Regions from separate parts of the Homo sapiens genome. Here all the other regions are linked to region 1. The links come from fine-mapping of genetic effects on gene expression. A gene starts in region 1. Each other region holds a variant in brackets. All regions are shown on one strand. Distances are from middle to middle.

Region 1 (5,157 bases):
GAAAGGTCAGCATCATTGAGTCATTTAATCAAAACAACAGTGGAAGCTTGTATCAAGGCCGCTCTGGTTTTTTTGTTTTGTTTTGTTTTGTTTTTTTTTTTTTTTGAGTCAGAGTCTTGTTCTGTCGCCCAGGCTGGAGTGCAGTGGCTCGATCTCAGCTCACTGCAAGCTCCGCCTCCTGGGTTCATGCCATTCTCCTGCCTCAGCCTCCCACGTAGCTGGGACTACAGGCGCCTGCCGCCATGCCTGGCTAATTTTTTGTATTTTTAGTAGAGACGGGGTTTCACCATGTTAGCCAGGATGGTCTCGATCTCCTGACCTCGTGATCTGCCCGCTTCGGCCTCCAAAAGGGCTGGGATAACAGGCGTGGGCCACCGCGCCCGGCTGAGGCCTCTCTGTTTACCATATCTCAAGCACTCACTGTTTCATTTGTCTAGGCAACTCTCTACCCCTCTGCAGCCATCAGGCAGAGACAGGTTTTGCAGTGACTTGAAATGCTCAGGTCTTCTATTGAGGGCCAGCCCCCAATTCCTTCTATTACTGTAGCCCATTGATATGGAAAAATCCGCCAGTATTGGTCACTATAATAATTTATACATTGTCCCAAAGAAGTTATTATTGTTATAAAATGTTTATTTTTCATTTTTGCTATGTGTACTTATCCATTTAAGATGCATTCTCTAATTTGTTTTAAGAGAACAATTAAATACAATATTGTAACAACGAGACAACTTTTTTCTTCTGGAGAGCCCACAACCGTCCCACAGACATGATATTTTCTTCAAAGGACTGATATAATTATTCAATTAGATAACAAATGGCATATAGTATGTGTTCAGTAAAATTTAATCTCCTTCAATAATTAGTTAACATAAACTGTTAATTTATATCTGCTTTTACTTAGCATATGATTGAAAAAATAAAATCAGGAATGCAAGTCTAGGAACACAGAATAAACACTCAACCCATGACCTTTCTTTATTTTATTGTATTTATCCTTTTTTTTTTTTTTTTTTTTTTTGAGACAGAGTCTCGCTCTATTGGCCAGGCTGGAGTGCAGTGGTGTAATCTTGGTTCACTGCAACCTCTGCCTCCCGGGTTCAAGCGAATTCCTGCCTCAGCCTCCCAAGTAGTTGGGATTACAGTTGCCTGCGACCACACCCTGCTATTTTTTTTATTTTTAGTAGAGATGGGATCTCACCATGTTGGCCAGGCTGGTCTCGAACTCCTGACCTCAAGTGATTTGCCCACCTTGGCCTCCCAAAGTGTTTGCTGTGTTTTCCTAGGGCCTAAGGTTTTTGCTGCCACTGACAAGGGTCAGGAAGGAGGTATACTCTGATTTAGGGGCAATAAGTCCTAGGGTGAGAGCAGTAAAACTGGAGTCAGAAAAGCCAAATCCAGTCCTCAGCATTTATTACTAACTCTATGACCTCTTCGAATCATTTAAATTCTCTGTTCTTGTTTTCTCTTGTAAAACAGGAAAAGAAAAAAGATGCATTCTGCTTTGTTTGCAGGCATGAGCTAAACAAGCATGTTTAGTTCTTACGGGTATTTCTGTCATTTTCTCACTCTTTGACAAACCTATCTGATCTTTGACAAACCCACTCTCATTATTCCATAAGAAAGTGGTGTTAAAGGCTTATGTTTCTTCCAATTTGTGATTACCAAGAGGCACTTAAGAACTCCAGGATTTCCATTTGTATAAAATCTAGCACATTATCAGTAAAACATCTTGACATTTATTTTAAATAGATTATTTATCTGCTATGAACCATGTGACATGCTTCTTGTTATGTGATAGTAACTCCATTATTTAGACATTTTAAAATTCCATTCAAGAAACAGTTGTATCCATGGACCAGCCATTCAAAGAGTAATTTTTCTTTAATCATTGATCTTCCAAATTCAACTTTACTCCTCTCTCCTTTAAGTCACCTGAATTACATCGTCACATTGTTCAGTGTTTGTGTGAATGTGTATGCATGTGTGTATGTGGTGGTGGTGGAGGTCCCTTTCTTCAGTATTCCCTCATTTCCTACTTTGGGCCTTTTTGGAAATGTTATTAAAAATTTTGATTATAGAATGGTACTTCATATTCACAGCATGATGCATTCATCAACATAAATCTAGCCAAAGCATTTCATTTGTGGATTTATACACCTGAAGCATTAAAATAAGAAATGTTAATTTCTTGCAGACTACTACCAGATGATTTTAAATATCTGCTAAGCAGGAATGTCTGTTCCCATGTGGGGAATTTCCATAATAAAATCCTGGCACCCTCGCTGAAGAGTACAGTTTTATAGAAACAGAGAAAAACAACAGCAAGTATTTTCCCTGAGGACGGTTTTAGCTACAATTTCCCAATGCTGCTTAGTTATTTCTGTCTTATTTTATGCTTTTGTTTTGAAACATAATGCAATTTTACCTGGATGCACTCCCGGATAATCAGGAATGGCTCAGTGTGTTTTCTGGCTCTTGCAAATGCAAGACCTCCAGAAAATCAGAAGGCTCCACCGCCTTGTCCCTTCCCCCACTCACACCTCCAGCTGGGAGAAAAGGGTTAAGGATTATTGGAAAATAGAAGAGAAGGGAGGGAGCCCCAAGGAGGCCCACGAACGGGAGGCCGCGCCTCTGGGTGCAGCGGAGCTCGAGCGCTGTTGTGTGTTTGGAAGGAAGGATGCTGCTGCCAATTTGTGGGACCGCTGCTGCGAGGAGTGGGCGTGGCCTCGGCGGTGTGGATGCTTGTTAGGAAAGATGCTGAGTGCTTTTCAGTGAGGAGTCAGGGAGGTGTGTGTGAGAGAGAGAGAGAAAAGAGAGAGACAGAGACGGGGAGAGAGAGAGGGAGAGAGAAGAGAGGGAGGAGGGAAGAAGAAAAGACGGAGGGAGGTGAGGAGGAAGGGAGGGGGAGAGACAGAGACCTAGAGGGGCTGAAGACCCAGACAGAGCTGGCAGAGCTACTGAGAAGAGGACTGGAGCGCTCTGAGAGCCTCTCAAGATCTTTTGGGGGAGCCCAATAAATGTGAACATGGGATCTGTCACGGGAGCTGTCCTCAAGACGCTACTTCTGTTATCTACTCAAAATTGGAACAGAGTCGAAGCTGGGAATTCCTGTAAGTATACAGCAAATGATTTAAAACTTGCTGGGGGGCTCTCTGCAAAACTTTGATTCTGTTGGTTTGATGATGATTATTTGCAGCTGGGATTGCTGCAAAGCGTATTGCTGTAAACCAAGCATCACTTAAAAATCTTGCCAATGTGACCGGTTAACACTTGTCTCTCCTCTTGGTCTGGTCAAAATAGGCAAAGTGTCATTTCTCTTTTTGTCTACTCGCAGAATCTTACCCTCTGGTCTTTGAGTATTCATTGAGAATGCCCAAGTTCTAGTAAAACATGAAATTAGCATCTTATCGGGGGAATAGCCTGTGAATATCTTCATTTCTTCTTTTTTAAAGAACTACTGAATTTTATTGGAATTATGTCTAAGAGGAAAACAACTGGCAGACTTTACATTATGCTGCATTGGCTTAGATTTCTGAAGTTTGCAATTGGGCAGACCAGTAGCTGCCTGCATCTTTAAAATAATGCAGGCTAATAACTGAAATGTACTGCAGGCTTCAGGAGCACCAGCACTGGCTGAGGCGAGTCTCAGTATTAAGAGCTGTGCCCTCGCTGCTAAGAGAATGAGACTTAGCGCTCTCCGGAAAGAGGAGCCTCTTCCTACATTTCGCTTAAAGGAAAACCAGTCAGGTGGTCTTTCAAAAGTAGGATTCCTTTGTGGTTGAATGCTTAACTGCATAAATTTGTAATTGAATGTTCTGATGAAATAGAACCTATTTAGGGAAGATTGAAATCTTATTTATAATTTAGATATCATCCATAATAATTTGGCAGACTCCCTTCATCCACTCTTTATTAGAGATAGAAAAAGTTTTAAAAGTTATCTTTGGCTTAAATTCTCTAAATGGGAGAATTTTCCCCTCCTGATTAATGACAAACAAGCTTGGCAAATACAACTTTTTATTTTTTCTTGGATTTTAAAGGAAAAGCTCATTTGCTTTCCAAGAACTGGCTATGAGGCCTGTCCAGGAATTTATGTTGCTGCTGTATCATCAGGCTTAGATTTGGGGAACAGAGGCAGTAATCAGACATTTGCTATGGCATATCACTTGACTATGTTAAGAGTTCTGATATGTGAAAAACATGACAAACTCATGGGCACAAGTCAAATGTCCCCTCACAGTACCTGGCTCCCGTGATTTCGTGTTTCAGTTCAGAATGGGCTCATTTAATGTCACAGGGTATCCATCACTCTGAAAGAAGGAACCTCACTTCAGGTGCTGCACATCAGATTCAACTTTAGTTTGAGTGTTGTGATAATCTCATAAGTCAATAAAATGTATAATTTCACCTAGTCAAAACCTTGGAATCTTATAATGGTAGCATTAGAAAAACATTGCATCATACAAGCAAACAATAACAACAACACCCACACACAAATGGAAGTTCTGTAGAAAAGGCATAAGTAATTCATCTTCCAACCACTAAAGTTCAACCAAAAAGAAAAGCACTAGAGGTCACTCTTACAATGTAAAGCACATCACCCCAAGCATCCTTCCCTCAAGAAAAGCAGAGCTTAAATCTGGCCTGTACTCCATTCAGTCTTTCCACTAGACTGCCTGTAGTTGGGTTTAAAATACATTAATCTAATTATTTGGGCTGCTAGTTGTTTATGTTTGCTTGTTTTCTTGAAGCTCAATAAAAAGTGTAGGGTGTACATCAACATTAAATAGCTTTCTTTTGCCATATATCTTCTTAGAAAAGAAAAGGTGCTGAAAGAGATCTGAGGAGAGTGTAATATTTATGTCTGCTTGGCTCTGGTTGGATCCCTCACTGACACTTAAAATTTCAGTGCTGGTTCTATATTCTTTCAGCCTTGGTTTGTTAAGGAAGTAGTCTAATGCTCTTTTAAACATCTGATGAACTTGCAAAACCTATACGATTTTTCATTATAAAAAACATTTAAAGTTGGAGTTCTTGCTTACCATGCATGTGGAGTTGACTGTTCTTCAAGTGTCAAAAATAAAATGAAATGACCTTATATAATTAAAGTTGCACTCAGTAATTTATTGTGAATATTTTGACAATATGATTTGC
Region 2 (5,157 bases), 280 kb after region 1:
CATTCTATGGAACAAGAAATTAGATATTGCTGTTAATTTTCAACTGTTCTGGTATGATCTAAAACAAGTTTAACCTGCTTAATGGCTACAGTTTTTACATGTGAAAACTGTAGCCTTGGTCTCTTAACCATGTAATACATAAGTTTTGTTAGAGGTAAAAATTAAATTTGGACTATAATGTCCTTGCTTTATTTGAGAACATTTGCTGTGTTTGCTTTTGTCTCCTCGTGGTGTTATTCATAGACCTGGAAATGCTTCTCAGATCCTGTGTGGCCGGTGTTTGCATCTTCAGTGGCCACAAGCATAATAAAGCCCCTTTGCCTTTCTCTGTATTATATTCAATACAATACATCAATAGTCTTGAAAAATGTTTTGCTGTCTTTGCTTTGTTTGTATTGCTCATTATTCTATTTGTCTCTTCTTAATAATGTTGAATACATTTGGTTTTGAGTCTCAGACTTCAACTCTGAACATACAAGTTGTATTTAACAAGACTCAGAAAGTGCAGTGGTTGTTAGTATGTAATGTCTTTCCTTTTAAAAAAAGTTTTCCAATTAATTTGCTACCATTGTTTGATGGTGACAGTACTTAAGACCCTGAGTAATGCCAGTTTCCCAAAGAATGTAAAATGTTTTCAACTAAACTGTTGATATATTAAAAAAAATTCTTAACACAGCAAAAAATTATTATTTAATTTACAACTGTAATACCTCAAATGAAATATACTTATGAGACTATTTTGCCCAAACCTAGATCAGTCCTTTATTGGTTTACATTTCTGTTTTTCTGAAGTTTATCACAAACTTCGCCTTGATCTTCAATGATTATACTTCACGAATCATCTTATATATTACCAAAAAAGAGACAAATTGAAGTATAGAGCCCCATTTCCCATTCTGAAACATATACCCCTTTAGGTGTACATTTTGCTGTGCATAGACTTCCAGTACATACTTTTTGAAATATGAGCTGCAACCATCAGTGATCTACACAATCAATAATTAAACAATGCACACTCTAAGGGGAGATAGCATATTAAATGATCTACTGTGAATTTGTCATTCCAGACACTTCTCGTCTGAAACGATGGGGTGAATTTCTCAAAAATTACCAAGAATCAATCCAACTTGCTGAATGGTACATTCTGATTAGGGTGTATTATACACTAGGAGATCAAAGAATGATCAATAACCTTATGGAACTGTTACAATAATTAATCTTGAGACCATGCATACAAGGAACTATCTTTGAATTCTGCAAGCCAATCATACAATAAAGGCACTCTATTATACATACTCACACCTTCAAGTGCCTCCCAAGTAACTATTGGATTTCTTAGTTTGTCTACACCAGAAGAATCGGGAAATATGTAAATTTAGCATTACTATCATCTTATTTTCTATATTTTCCTTGTTAACTCTTCTTATAAAACCTGCCTCTCTTTTCTCATAGCACTATATCCATATTGATGTTTCTGCAAATGCCTGACTAAATCTTAAGAACCTGAATTAACATAGTAGTTTACGAAGGACTAAGGACCTATGTTGGTAGATGGTATACTCTTTGTTTGATTGGAAGATCTATGGTGACAAGGGAAGGATTTAACATAGAAATGGCATTATTTATTCGATGCAAAGCTGAGTGCAAACATCATTATATCTCTGAATCTTTTGCAGATGTTCATGTTATTTAGTAGCGGTATTAACCTCATTGGTAGCTGAACTCTAGGGAGGTTTATTGGTGAAGCCTCACAGTCCTCTGTGGTCTGCACTGCTAGAGACTCAACATTATGGCATGGAAATGCATTGACACATCCTATGCCATGACTTTAATTTCCTGATTTGTAATCTCTTATTTTATCATTAATAAAATGCATTTTTGAACTAAAATGCAAAACAGAAGTCAATCATTTCAAAATTATCTTTCAGTAGATGTTTTTGTCCTTCAGAACAACAGAGTCACTCATAGAATTGGACAGCACTGACATGATTTAGTGTGAACAGTTTTACAGATGAAAAGTCCAGGATGCGGATATATCAATTGACATTCCCAAGGGGACATGTAACATTGTGTAAGTGTTGAAGATGTGACTACAATGTCCTTTTTTACTCCACATGATATTGATCTTCCAAGACCTGGAATTTTGACAGTTATTTAGTGGTGTAGAAAAATCTGAAAGATCTTGATACTTTCTTTGTCCACAATGATCTATAGTTCTATAGCTTATCCATTATCTGTTCTAAATGAACATCAACCTTTATTTGATAGGTCATTGCTGTTGATAGGTTTGCCTTTCTTTTAAAAATATTTGGTAGGTTTATGACCCTTGACTGCAGGAGAGACAATTATTATCACTGGAGCACTTTTATGTAGGCTTTGTGAAATCCACAATAGGAATTAGATGTCACTGAGGGAATCATCAAATATTTTCCTCCTGATAGAAGGATAAATTAGACACATTCTAAATCAATGCATGTTCAAGCGAATTGTTTGATTTTCAAACTCATGTATCAACTAAATGACAAATCGACTAGATACCTTCAATATATTCTGGTTGTCTTTCGCTTTTCCAAAGTCTGGATGGGAGAGAGTGGTAACGTGGAGGAAAAAGTTCAGAAGCTGAATGTCTTTGTGTTGGGGATGTGGGTGGGTGAGCACATTTGTGTGTGCAACAAATAATAAGAAATTAAGATAAGGGAACAACATAGTGTACTTACAATGTGATTAAGAAAGCTGGAGCTTGGCTTTGAAGATTTGCAAATAAAAATAAAAGGGGATGGAAAATAAATCTGACTACAAGTATAATAACTTTTCCAGTACAATCTTTAAAAAATCTGTTTTTCTATTTTAACATTGTCTTTATTTATTAAAAATACATGCACATACTTAAAAAATCAAATAGCTCAAGAAAGCTTACAAAAAATATCTTTCCATTGCCAGATCCCCTTCCCAACACTTAAAACTCTTT[C/T]AACTGTGTCTTTCACTGTCTCTGTGTTTATAAATAACCAGCAGCTACAGGTTAGGTTCCCTGGGAAGCAAACTTTGAGACAGAGATTATGCTGGAAGAAATCTGTTAGGGGCTACTGTAGAGATCAACGCCTGTTGAAGACAGAATGATGTGGGGTGGGGCAGATGGAGAAGTAAAGCTGTGGTATGGTCACAAGAAGGGATCAGCCGACCCTGCTGACATGGTCCTTTAGTGACATACAGAGTTAGGGTGGATGAAATGGGAATTTATACTTCTGCATTGACCAGGCATTGGATGTTAACTTCTTGATGAGGTGGGCATGAACTTGGACAAATGGCTCTTTTCAGCTTAGGTGGTTCCTGAAGAGGGAGGACAAACATCACCAGCAGCCGAGAAGAATAAATTGCTGAGTCCTGAAATAGGAGTCTCAGTGGCACAGTACAGCATCTCTGAGGTTCCCCCTTGTGCTAACCAGATCCACCTGCTTCATATGAGTTCTGGGAGTAGCTCCTTCAGAATTCTAGTGAGCTTCATATCTTGGACAGGAGGGAGTAGTATGGAATAAACCACAGACCCTACCACTGCAGGTAGTCTCTCAGTTGTAGCTTGTACTCATCTTTTTCCTCCTCTACCATCCACACCAGCTGACAACACTACAAGGAGTTTGAACCCTTGTCTCCTATGACCTTCTCAGGGTATATCTGCTGTACTTTTGCAATTACCATTAAAATTGATCAAAGAAGTATCAACATGCAAAGCACATTTCTCCCTTCCTCAGAGTGTAATTTCACCTCCCTCACTTATTGTTGGTTACAGACAGTTACTTCTCACATACCCTCTCAGAAAATCTTGAATCGGTGAAAGATCCACATTACAGCAAAGGATAAGTGGGAGTGGGCACATTGCCATGAGATATGCTGGTCCTGTCACATTCCACACCACCAGAGGGGCTCTGTAGACCCTCAACAGGTGGTGGTGGCTGATGGCTTGCAGGCAGTAAAGACAACCCAAACCTGAAGGAAGTCATAATTCTTACTACAATGAATCTCTGTCCCTTTCAGAGTAGAGGGATCTGATGTACTCAGCTTGCCACAGAATTTATCTGCTGGTAGAGAGAAATTATTCTGGGGGATGAACACTGGTCTCTGTTGATCATTAGGACATTCAGGAGTGGTAGTAGCTAGATCAGTCCTGATGAGCGGGAATGCTCACTGCTTGTCTATGAGTAGCTCCTACCCCTGCCTGCATGGCTACTCTGTTCATATGCTCATTGCCCCAGCACTTTGGTGGCCAGTGATTGAAGTTGGTTTAATGCCAACCATGCATAGGTCATTCTATCTACTAATTGTTGTTTAGTGATTCTTCCATGATTCTTTCCATGGTGGGCAAATAATTTTATGCTTTATGACCACTCCCATAGGTCCATTTACATGCTTCTACTTCAGACCTCCTTGTTTCCAATCTTCCAGTCTCTTTCTAGGTCTCTGACAAACTGACCAACCTACTGCCCATAAGTCCATATAGCATATAATATAATTTCATATGTATATATAAATTATAACCTCAGTCTATTCGTTTCATGCAGAGTGAATGAGCATGGGTGCCATGCAAATGTTCTGCCATTGGGAGGGCTTTTCCTCATTGCCATCTTGTGATGCCACCCTAATTGGCACTGTAGTGGTGGCATTTTCCATGTTCACCTTGCACCCATATTCCAAGTCAACCCATCCATGCCAAGATAAGATATTTCCCTTCTCCAGCAGTTGATGGTAAGAGACCCTTCATGCAGCCCTAGGTGTAAGCTGAGGGAAAGGTACTGTTGGGACAGTGGTGGATCACAGGGGTCTGGGCTACTGGCTTATGCAGCTTGCTGGCACCTGCTCATGCTTGGCTCCAGATGCATCATTTCCAGTTGATGATGGCTTCCTGCTGGGCCCAGGTAACTTTATGACTTGGTGGACCTGACAGAACCCAGCTCATTATGGGCATTTCTGCCCATATTTGCTGTGCCAATGTGATGTAAGGCATTTCGTCTCTAGCAGGGCCCAATAGCAAGCCTGGAACCTTTTTAGAAAGTTGTGTTTCTCTACGCCAGGTGACCTGGCACTGCTATAGTTCCCTGAGTTTTTCAATGTGATGTTCCCACTGGTGACTTCCAGTGAAGTCTACATAGCATTATTTTGACCATT
Region 3 (5,157 bases), 290 kb before region 1:
GTAGGGTTTACACAAGCTGCTCTAAAGATCACAAGAAGCAGACAGACATGTGCTGCCCATACTCCAGAGACACCAAAACTGCACCCACTTTGGACTCTTCATGAGCAGCTCCCCAAGATCGAGGAGAGACAAACCTTATCTTTTACTTCAGGTCCCTTGGAGAAGAAAGCCCTGACTTGATTTCCTTCCCTGACATCCCAGCAGGACTTATGGCTTCTGTATACCTTCAATGGTCCACCAACAGCATTCTTGTCTCTGTCAATCACCTACTCCAGAGACGGTGTTGGGAATGAGAGTAGGGCAGTGATAAGTGATCAGTGTGCCATAATTCCAAAAGCCCACAAAAGTGACTTCGATATTAAGACATAGCTTAGAAAGATAAATCTTTTGTGTTTGTGTTAAAAATTTTAAAATCTCTAATACACATTAGAATCAAATGCAAACAAATTTTGAGTGTTTGCTTCTTACAAGTGTGGTATAATATGAATTGGGAGAAGAAAAAGAACATACTTCTGCAAGAAATTTTAGAATTTGAAGGCTGATCCACTTGGATTTCAATTGCTTAATAAGCTAAATCATGTTTTGCTCTCCTGCTATGTGTCTAATCATAATCATATGAGTATTTTCCTCTACTTCTGTGTGCTGATTGTTTGTATGCAGCATCTCTCCATCTGAGGCAGTGGCAGGAGCCCTGGGCTCCCCCTGTTTTTCATCACCCTTTTGCAGAAATGCTTCTCACTTTTCCTGAGCAATGCTGCTGTGGTCTAAACTGTCATTTCCCCAGCACCATCTGTAGACTGATATTTTGTAAGGATTTGTATGGATTCCAAGTAAGAATCCAGCTCAATAGGCCAGCATAATTAGTTTTTAAGATTAAAAAAAAAAGTAATTGATCAATTCCTATTCTAGTCCACCCTCTATTTCCCTCCACTTCTTATTTCACCCTCACATGAAGATATACTTACAGCTTTGAAACAGAATCAAATTTCTGGGCTGCACAATTAAATTTCAGTCAAAATTTTCACTTACTAGAATGCTCACAATACTAATAGTGTTGTTAGAAATAAGACACTTGATTAAAAGGCGGTGCACTTGTCTATATCTTTAATGTGCATTCCTAATGAGTCTTAGCAGGAGGCTGATTCACATGAAAATGCACAATTAGCTCATCCAAGTTTAATACACCATTATCTGCATCCAGGCCCTCTCTTCATTACCATTTGAATGCACTGTTTTCTTTGGAGTTTTGTGTAGGAAGCAAATCCCTATATATGGCACACAGCTCTAGACTGATTTGTCTGCATTTGCCCTTTAGACAAAAGGCCAAAACAACATGCTCTTTGGTGCATTAATTTTCAATCTCTTGCTATTTTTGAAATTGTAATGCAGCACATTTCCTTTTCCAAGGGACTTCAGTCAGTATACAGCGTGGAAGTGGATATCGCCAAGGGATTTGTTTGTTATGGGGCTGCTTTAAAGAGCTGTTGAAATCCAGTGAAATAAAATAGGACTTAAGTCTAATGTCACTACTATATAGAGTCCCGTACCATCTTGACTTTGGAATCTAAGACAATTCATTGCCTGAAATAAAAACTGAGAAAACAAGAGTTTTATTTATTTCCTATCAGTGTTGTCATTTGGCTTTTCATTAATCTTCAGTGCTTTTAGCATATCACACGCCTACAGTTCTATAAGTTACCTCGATATGCAGAATACCATTTAATACGGAGCAAATTGAATCACTAACAGATTAAAAATACTATTTAAAAAAATCCCTTCTTCTATCCTCATTTTCAAGGATCATTTATATTTAGCCCTTCAGAGACTTAAACAATTGTACAAAGAGAAAAAGCCTTTCTTAGGACATGAGTTTCTACTTCTGAATAATGAATCATATAGTATATTTCACTAAGCATGAAGTCATTTTAGAGAAACCCATTTGGTGATAGTTTACAGATTTATACAGTAAAAAAAACAGAGGTGACATACCTGAGGTGCAGAAATTGTCAAAATTCTTATTTGCCCATAAGGTAATATTGAGAGTAATTTGCTAAGCCTAAGAAGAAAAAGGTTCATTGGAGGGCACATGACATATTAGAACCTGCGTGAGGTATTTATACCCTCTACAACTTTCTAACTTTGTTTATCAAGCACTTTTCTTAATCTCTGAGTCTCAGAATTCCTCTTTCTTTTTCCAGGCAGTATCTGGAAAAATGGCATAATAACAACCTTTGTGCACCATTGTTGTGAGGAGGAAAGAAAAAATTAGAAAGTATCTAATATCATCCATGTCCCAACAAAGGACATGAACTCATCCTTTTTTATGGCTGCATAGTATTCCATGGTGTATATGTGCCACATTTTCTTAATCCAGTCTATGAAGGGGCACATCACGCACTGGGGCCTGTTGTGGGGTGGGGGGAGGGGGGAAGGATAGCATTAGGAGATATACCTCATGTAAATGATGAGCTAATGGGTGCAGCACACCAACATGGCACATGTATACATATGTAACAAACCTGCGCATTGTGCACATGTACCCTAGAACTTAAAGTATAATAAAAAAAAAGTAGTAATATACAAATTCGTCAAGGTTACAGGATACAAGATCAATAAAAACTGTGTTTTTATGTGCTAGCAATGGATTATCTGAATGAGAAATTAGGAAAACAATTCCATTTCCAATAGTATCAAAAATAAATACTTACGAATACATTTTAAACATGAATTGCAAGACTTGTACACTAAAAACTGTAAGATATTGGTGAAAGAAATTAAAGGCAACCCAAATAAATGAAAAGTTATTCCATGTTCATGATTCATAAGTTTTAATGTTATTGAGATGGTAATACACTTCAAATTGATCTGCAGATTCATCACAATGTTTATCAGAATCCCAGCTGATTTTTTTTTTTGTAGAAACTATCTCATCCCCACATTTATATGGAAATGTAAGGCAGTA[C/T]AGATAACCAAAACAATCTTGAAAAGGAAAAATAAAGTTAGAGGACTCATACTTCCCTATTTCAAAATTTACTACAATGCTACAGAAATCAAGTCACTTTGGTGCTGGCAGGCATAAACATATAAATTAATGTAATAGAATCAAAAGCCCAGAAATAAACGCATACATTTATGGTCAATTGATTTTTCACTAAGAAGCCAAGCAAATTCAATGGGAAAAAGAATAGTTGTTTCACAAATGATGCTGGAACAACTGGGTATCCACATGATGCAAAAGAATAAATTTGGACCCCTACCACCACATGCAAAAACTAAATAAATATGGGACCCAGACCTAACTATGAGAGCTCATGCTCTCATACAGAGTTAACAAAACCCACAAAACGAAACAGGAAGAAATCTTCATGATCTTGGGTTAGGCAATAATTTCTAAGCTATGACACCAAAAATACAAGCAATAAAAGAGAAGATTAGGCCGGGCGTGGTGGCTCATGTCTGTAATCCCAGCACTTTGGGAGGCAGAGGCAGGCGGATCATGGGGTCAGGAGTTCGAGACCAGCCTGACCAACATGGTGAAACCCCGTCTCTACTAAAAATACAAAAATTAGCTGGGTGTAGTGGCATGCGACTATAATCTCAGCTACTCAGGAGGCTGAGGCAGGAGAATCACTTGAACCCAGGAGGCGGAGGTTGCAGTGAACCGAGATTGTGCCATTGCACTCCAGTCTGGGTGATGGAGTGAGACTCCATCTCAAAAAAATTAATTAGTTGAACTTCATTAAAATTAAAAATTTAGTGCTTCAAAGGACACTATCAAGAAAGATGACCCAAAGAATGGGAGAAAATATTTGTAAATCATGTATCTAGGAAGAGAATCATATCTGGAATATATAAATAGTTTTTAAAATTATTTTTATTTTGAGACAGAGTGTTGCTCTGTCACCCAGGCTGGAGTGCAGTGGCATGATCTTAGCTCACCACAACCTCCGTCTCCTGGATTCAAGCAATTTTCCTGCCTCAGCCTCTCAAGTAGCTGGGATTACAGGTGCCCGCCACCATGTCCAGCTAATTTTTGTATTTTTAGTAGAGACGGGTTTTCACTATCTTGGCCAGGCTGCTTTGGAACTCTTGATGTCAGGTGATCTGCCTGCCTCAGCCTCCCAAAGTGCTGGGATTACAGGCATGCGCCACCGTACCTGGCCTAAATAGCTTTTAATATAAAATATAAAAAGACAACCCAATTACAAAATGGACAATGGATTTAAACAGATATTTCTGCAAAGAAGATATATACAAATTAACAAAATATATGAAAAAATGCTCAACATTATTAATCATTAGAGAAATGCAGATCGAAACCACAATGACAATCTGCAGAATGGCTATGCCAAAAAGGCAGGCAATAAGAAGTGTTGGAGAGAATGTGGAGAAATTGGAACCCTCATACATTGCCGATGGGAATGTGGAATGGTGCAGCCCATTTGGCAGTTCCTCAAAATAGTATTTTACAGAGCAATTCCACTTCTAGGTATCTACTTGAAAGAAATGAAAATATATGTCCACACATAAACTTGCACCCTATAACCAAAAAATGGAAAAAATCCATCCATCAAATGTTGGATAAACTAAACGTGGTATATCCAGATGATAAAATATTAAGCAGCATCACAAAGAATGAAGGACTGATGCATGCTACAACCTGGATAAAGCTTGAAAACATTTTACTAAATGAAAGAAGCCTGTCACAAAAGAATACATATTGTATCATCCCATCATCTTAGTTTAGTTTCTGTTGCTAATAACAGAACACCTGAAACTGACATTAAAGCAAACTAAATATGGCCTGAGAAGGATTCTGTACCTCTACATTGAAGTCCTTGTGGACAAACTGTAACCTAAGTTAGAGTGTTTTATAAGAGAGCAAAAATGAGTCTGTGGCCCAGTCAGCGAGGAAATAAGTTGTACAAGATGGTATTGACAAGGACGGCAGGGCCAGAAGATATAAGGTCTTATAGGATTATACTCCTAGTGCTGTGGGAAGTCATGAAGAGGCAGAAGTCAGACAAGAGGAGCTTATGTATGTATTTATTTATTCTGTGTGGCTAGAATCCATTATTCTGTGTGGCTAGAACCAACTTTATTACCAAGAAGGTTTAATAGAATATATATTTTTAAAAAGTTTTATTTTTGGTTCAG
Region 4 (5,157 bases), 300 kb before region 1:
ATTTTTTATGATTAGTATGAGTTTTTTTAAGTATCTTTATTGAATTAAGTTGGTTTGAGACTTTAAAGCAAAGGGGATATTTGAGCAGGTAGAGATGTCCAAAATGGAAATGTTGTCAACTCGTAGTTGACTGGAGTTCAACCAATTTAGTGGTACAGAGATTAATTAGCCTTGATTTGATCTATTGTTATATTTGCAGACTCTTTTTTTAATAGGTACAGAAGATGTCTGGTGGTTTAGAAGGTTTTTATGAAGATTTATATATATATAATATAATATATATAAATCTATATATATAAATATTATATATAAATCTATATATAAATCTATATATAAATATTATATATAAATCTATATATAAATATTATATATAAATATATATATAAATCTATATATATAAATATTATATATAAATCTATATTTATATATAATATATATTTTATAGATATATAAATCTCTATATAAATATTATATATAAATCTGTATCTATAAATCTATAAATATAATATATAAAAATTATATGTATTATATATATTAATCTTCATAAAAATCTTCTAAAGCACCAAAGATGGTTTATATTATATATATAATATATAATATATAAATCTTCATAAAAATCTTCTAAACCACCAAGTATTTTATATATATATATAATGTAAAGATAGATAATTATACTTATTATTCAGATAGAAGTTTTGTTTTTAATTTAATTTGTACAGGTAGCTGTTTTATACCTGTATTATTTTTCCTTCTATTTTTGCCTGGTATGTTGTAGGATGTGGCAGGGAGGTGGAAAATTCCTGAGATCAAACACTATTTCTAGGTAGCTGCTTCCTTTGCTGTGAATTTACTGTTAATCCTCTTAGTCATAATCTCTGCAATTGAACATATAGCTCCATTTTCCAAGTTGAAAATGCCAAATATCATTTCAAAGTGATTAAAAACCTGGTGATAAAAAAGTACCAATAACATTCTCATTTTATGACTATTTCTTTGGATGATTTCCTTAAGATGAAGGAGCAATAATAATGTGTGAGGCTTTAATATTAAGTATTTAGAGACTTTAATAATTTGAGATTAATATTTATAAAACGTTTATGGCAAGATAGTGAACATTTAATGAAAATGTCTCAAGTTACATTAGTAATATTAGATTGACCCATATAATAGTAAAATATAAATGCATTTTCCCAATGATTCTTGACAAGTTTGTATATGGAAATATGAGTGATGGGATGAATGTGGGCTTTGGAATTGTTCAGACTTATTAGTAATGGGAGCTTCAGAAAGTTAATTGTGCTCTGAAACCTCTTTTCTTATTTAGTAAATGACAATGGTAATTCCTGTCTTGCCTGCTTTTCTTAAAGAATTAATGATATATTGTGCAATAACCTAGCATAATGATTTGAAGGTAGTGATAGTAATAGTGATAATAGTAACAATAAGAGGATCACGATAAGGAATAAACTAAATAAAAGATGAAACAGCTAATAAGGACCTTGTTTTTTTCTTAATGTGTATTCTATTTCCAAAATCTCCAAGTATTTTATTTGTCATCTCTTAGTAAAACCGAGATGTTTAAGTGAGTGTTACTTTATATTCTGGGAATTAAGATGGGGCTGGAGATGAAGTTCAATTCACACAAAAGGCCTAATGAGTATTTCTCGGAACCTTTGTAAAAATTGCACAGTTAATAAGGTGGCTTAATTTCATTGCTAGCGGCACCAATGCATATTTCATTCATTTTAAGTGTTTCCTTTTTCGGAGCCAGAATGAAAATATAATAATTGCACAGGCCATGATTAACCAGCTGCTTAGCAATTCTCTCTCTTACTATTTTCTATCATATCTTTTTGCACGCAAAGGACAGCAAATAGATAATATGAGTTGAGGATACACATTGCATTATCATTTTGACGTAATTGCTCTCCCTTTAATGGAGAATGAGAGCTACCAGCAGTGTTTGCTACCTGTGTATTTTTAAAATCTGAAGATATTCAAAGGTCCTATCCACAGTACAGAAAGTTAGCCCTTTTCATGGAGATGTAGCTGGTTTCATCGAGCTGATTTTATAACTGTTTCTCTCTTGGCTTTAAGTCTGAAGCCTTTATTGAAGTAGGACCAATGGACATTTAGTGGAAA[T/A]CTCTGCCTCCATGCACAGTTCCTTCCTCTCACAGTGAGAGCCTGTAAAGAGTGTCGCTCACAGAGCCTCACATCCACACTCTCCCCACTGTACCCACCATCAGCCAGCAACTGTCAGGCAGGGGATATTCTGGGAAGAGGGATTTAAAAAGAAAGCACAGGGCTGGCAGTCTTCACAGATTCTTGTGAAGAAGTATCTCTGACATTCAGGGTGCACAGTCACTCCTGCTCATGGCCAGCTGGGTAGAAAATTGCCCTGGACACCATGCATGTGACTGAGAGTGAGGCAAACTTTTAAATGAATAACTAGGGAGAGGAGGATTGCGTTAGTTTAATTTCCTACTTTTCAATTTCCTCAGATTGGTCCTTCCTGATGAATCCTGTCTAGTAGTTACCAGTGGCCCCCCTAATTGAGACCAGTAAGAGCCCAGCCAAATAAGCATTTAAGGTTCCTTTCCTGTACCTGAGAATCACATAGCTTAGATTGTCACCTCTCAGGTGGCAGAACCCTAAATGTTCAATGCTGTATCATCTGCTGGCAGTTTCTAGTATTCTCCTCAAGTTTCCTACTGCCCCTAACACCCCATCTTGTTCTTTGTCTGTGTCTCTCTTTCTTATACATACACACACACACACACACACACACATCAAAGAGGCATATGCCTATAAAATGACCATCCCTGCATTTTAATCCCATGATACTTGAATCTTTAGCCATGTCTCCAGTCCATGGGTTGATGTCGTTGGCATTTCCCAAGACCAGATCCTCTTCTCATTTCCCTCTACCGTGAACCACTCTCTGGTTAGTGATCAAGTTTGCTTTTGATGACTGCAACATCTTTGGTCTTTACACTTAAGATGATATAATAATTAACTAGCTAAGCTTTCATCTGGCACACTCTGATCAATTCATCTTGCTGTTTATGCTTCTGGGCTGGATTTGAGTTTTGTTGCAAACCCAACATTTATTGGGGCCATTAAAAATAATTCTTGTCTTTTCCCTTTCTTCGTCTCACATTTATAAAGTGAATGTACATCCTATACAATTGAGGTTTCTAAAGTCTGCCTGTAAGGTGGAACTGGAATATAGTAAAATATTCCTCTTGAATATTCCCACAAATCACTCATAAGATACATACTATGGACATGAATAACCTCAGTAAGACCAACAAAGCCAAACAGCTTTTTCTACAGCGTTGATCCAATCACTGTGTCTTCACTTGACTATCAGATGAACTTTTGCCTTGCGTTTTGGCTTTATCTTATATGAAAATGTACACATTTAACCCCAGAATCATACTTGTGCGCTGAGATATTCACAATACTGGAGACAGAAGGGTTGACTGATAAAAACAGCACATTCTGTTCCTAGGGTTGTACTTCCACTGTGGCATGTGTTCATTGATAGGAGTGGAAAGTCGATAGTCAGTACTCGCTCTCTGTTCTTTTCCTCAAGCACCTACACTTGGATTTGCATAAGTCAAATGTACAAATGACAACATGCTAGTGTTCCTTTGCGCAGCTCAAAACTTACCCTCAGTAATTCACATGGCTGACCACGGCATTGGGAACCAATGGTGATAACAGTGACCACTAACTGTGCAAAGTATGATGCTTAGTGTTTTATATTGTAATCCTATTTAATCTGCAAATCTGCTCTGTGAGTTCTGCCTTATTAGTCCCATTTCCCGGATATCTATGTGTGGATAAAGTTTTAAAGAACCTTTCAATCTTTAGGGAAAAAAGTAAGCAAGAGACATCACTCACCTACTTTGATCCCACTGTGCATGTGTGTTTCTGTATTTGTGTGTGTGCATATCGAATGCAAACTGGCTTACAGGATGTAACATTTTAAAGAGCTAAAAGTTGAGAGAGCAGTAACTTTTTATTATACTTACAATGAAATGATTGAAGATTGGAAGGTTGGTAATTTTTTTCCAAGTCATACAGCTAGTTGAACTGAATAGTTTGAGTCACATTGCTTCCTACTCTTTTTAGAAGAGTAACTTTTGTTTCTAACTTGTTTTTTATTGTCTATTTTCTAGTTTTCTAGCTTTCTTATGAGCTAGAACTTCGGTAATGTCATTGCAAACTGCAAGGTATTGTTACGCTACATGATTTTTTCAAGCAGCTGATTGGCTTCTGGGTTTTTTTCTTTTGAGACGGCCTTGTATTTGCTGTCTCGAGATTTCCATTACAGAGAATTACCAATTTTTCTAGTATAATACAATTTACTATTGCAAAAAAGGGGCCTATTTCTCTGTTGGGGCTCTTGATACAACTTTAAGGTGTTTCCATCAATTGAGGGCTTAGTCTTAAGTCGCCTGGATGGGTGTGGTAACACTTTGTGTTATCTATTGGTCAGTCAGAGGCTTAATAGGAAATTTATCTCATTTCCACTTACTATGATATATTGCTTCTTCTGCTTTTAATTTTTATAATGCTTTTTATAATTTTTTATAATTTTATAATGCTTTTAATTTTAATTTTAATAATGCTCAGTGTAATTTCTGTTTTGGTGCTTTCTTTGATATCTTATGCTATATGGTTTTTGTTGCCTTTGTTTTGTTCGCTCATTCATAAACATTTTTAAGGCTTGAGGAATATATTTTTAGATATTTTAGCGTTGACTGTTGTAAGTCAAATTATGATCAAACATACTCACATAATTATAACTCTATATCTTTATTTACTGATGTTTAACTTGAAAAAGAAGTTATGTATGGCTGGGCGCGGTGGCTCACGCCTGTAATCCCAGCACTTTGGGAGGCCGAGGTGGGCGGATCACGAGGTCAGGAGATGGAGACCATCCTGGCTAACACGGTGAAACCCAATCTGTACTAAAAATACAAAAAAATTAGCCAAGCGTGGTGGCGGGCCCCTGTAGTCCCAGCTGCTGAGGAGGCTGAGGCAGGAGAATGGCGTGAACCCAGGAGGCGGAGCTTGCAGTGAGCCGAGATCGCGCCACTGCACTCCAGCCTGGGTAACAGAGCCAGATTCCGTCTCAAAAAAAAA

Evidence for each region. PIP is the estimated chance that this variant, and not a neighbour inherited with it, causes the effect. A credible set is the group of variants that fine-mapping cannot tell apart.
Region 2: its variant is the best candidate, but not a certain one, in a credible set for the expression of CNTNAP4 in cerebral cortex (GTEx, PIP 0.77).
Region 3: its variant is the best candidate, but not a certain one, in a credible set for the expression of CNTNAP4 in spinal cord (GTEx, PIP 0.90).
Region 4: its variant is the best candidate, but not a certain one, in a credible set for the expression of CNTNAP4 in hippocampus (GTEx, PIP 0.50).

What each region holds. Positions count from the first base shown.
Region 1 is chr16:76,274,635-76,279,791 of GRCh38, forward strand. It overlaps CNTNAP4 (contactin associated protein family member 4), which reads left to right and starts at 2,767. Exons shown (of 24, transcript NM_033401.5): 1 at 2,767-3,113. The coding sequence starts at 3,029.
Region 2 is chr16:76,558,869-76,564,025 of GRCh38, forward strand. CNTNAP4 (contactin associated protein family member 4) reads left to right here. Exons shown (of 24, transcript NM_033401.5): 24 at 1-1,889. Among named protein-coding and RNA genes, the nearest start is that of LINC02125, 74 kb to the right of the region's middle. The variant C/T (reference allele first, on the strand shown) is at 2,969.
Region 3 is chr16:75,982,730-75,987,886 of GRCh38, forward strand. No RefSeq gene overlaps it. Among named protein-coding and RNA genes, the nearest start is that of CPHXL, 260 kb to the left of the region's middle. The variant C/T (reference allele first, on the strand shown) is at 2,963.
Region 4 is chr16:75,970,140-75,975,296 of GRCh38, forward strand. No RefSeq gene overlaps it. Among named protein-coding and RNA genes, the nearest start is that of CPHXL, 250 kb to the left of the region's middle. The variant T/A (reference allele first, on the strand shown) is at 2,143.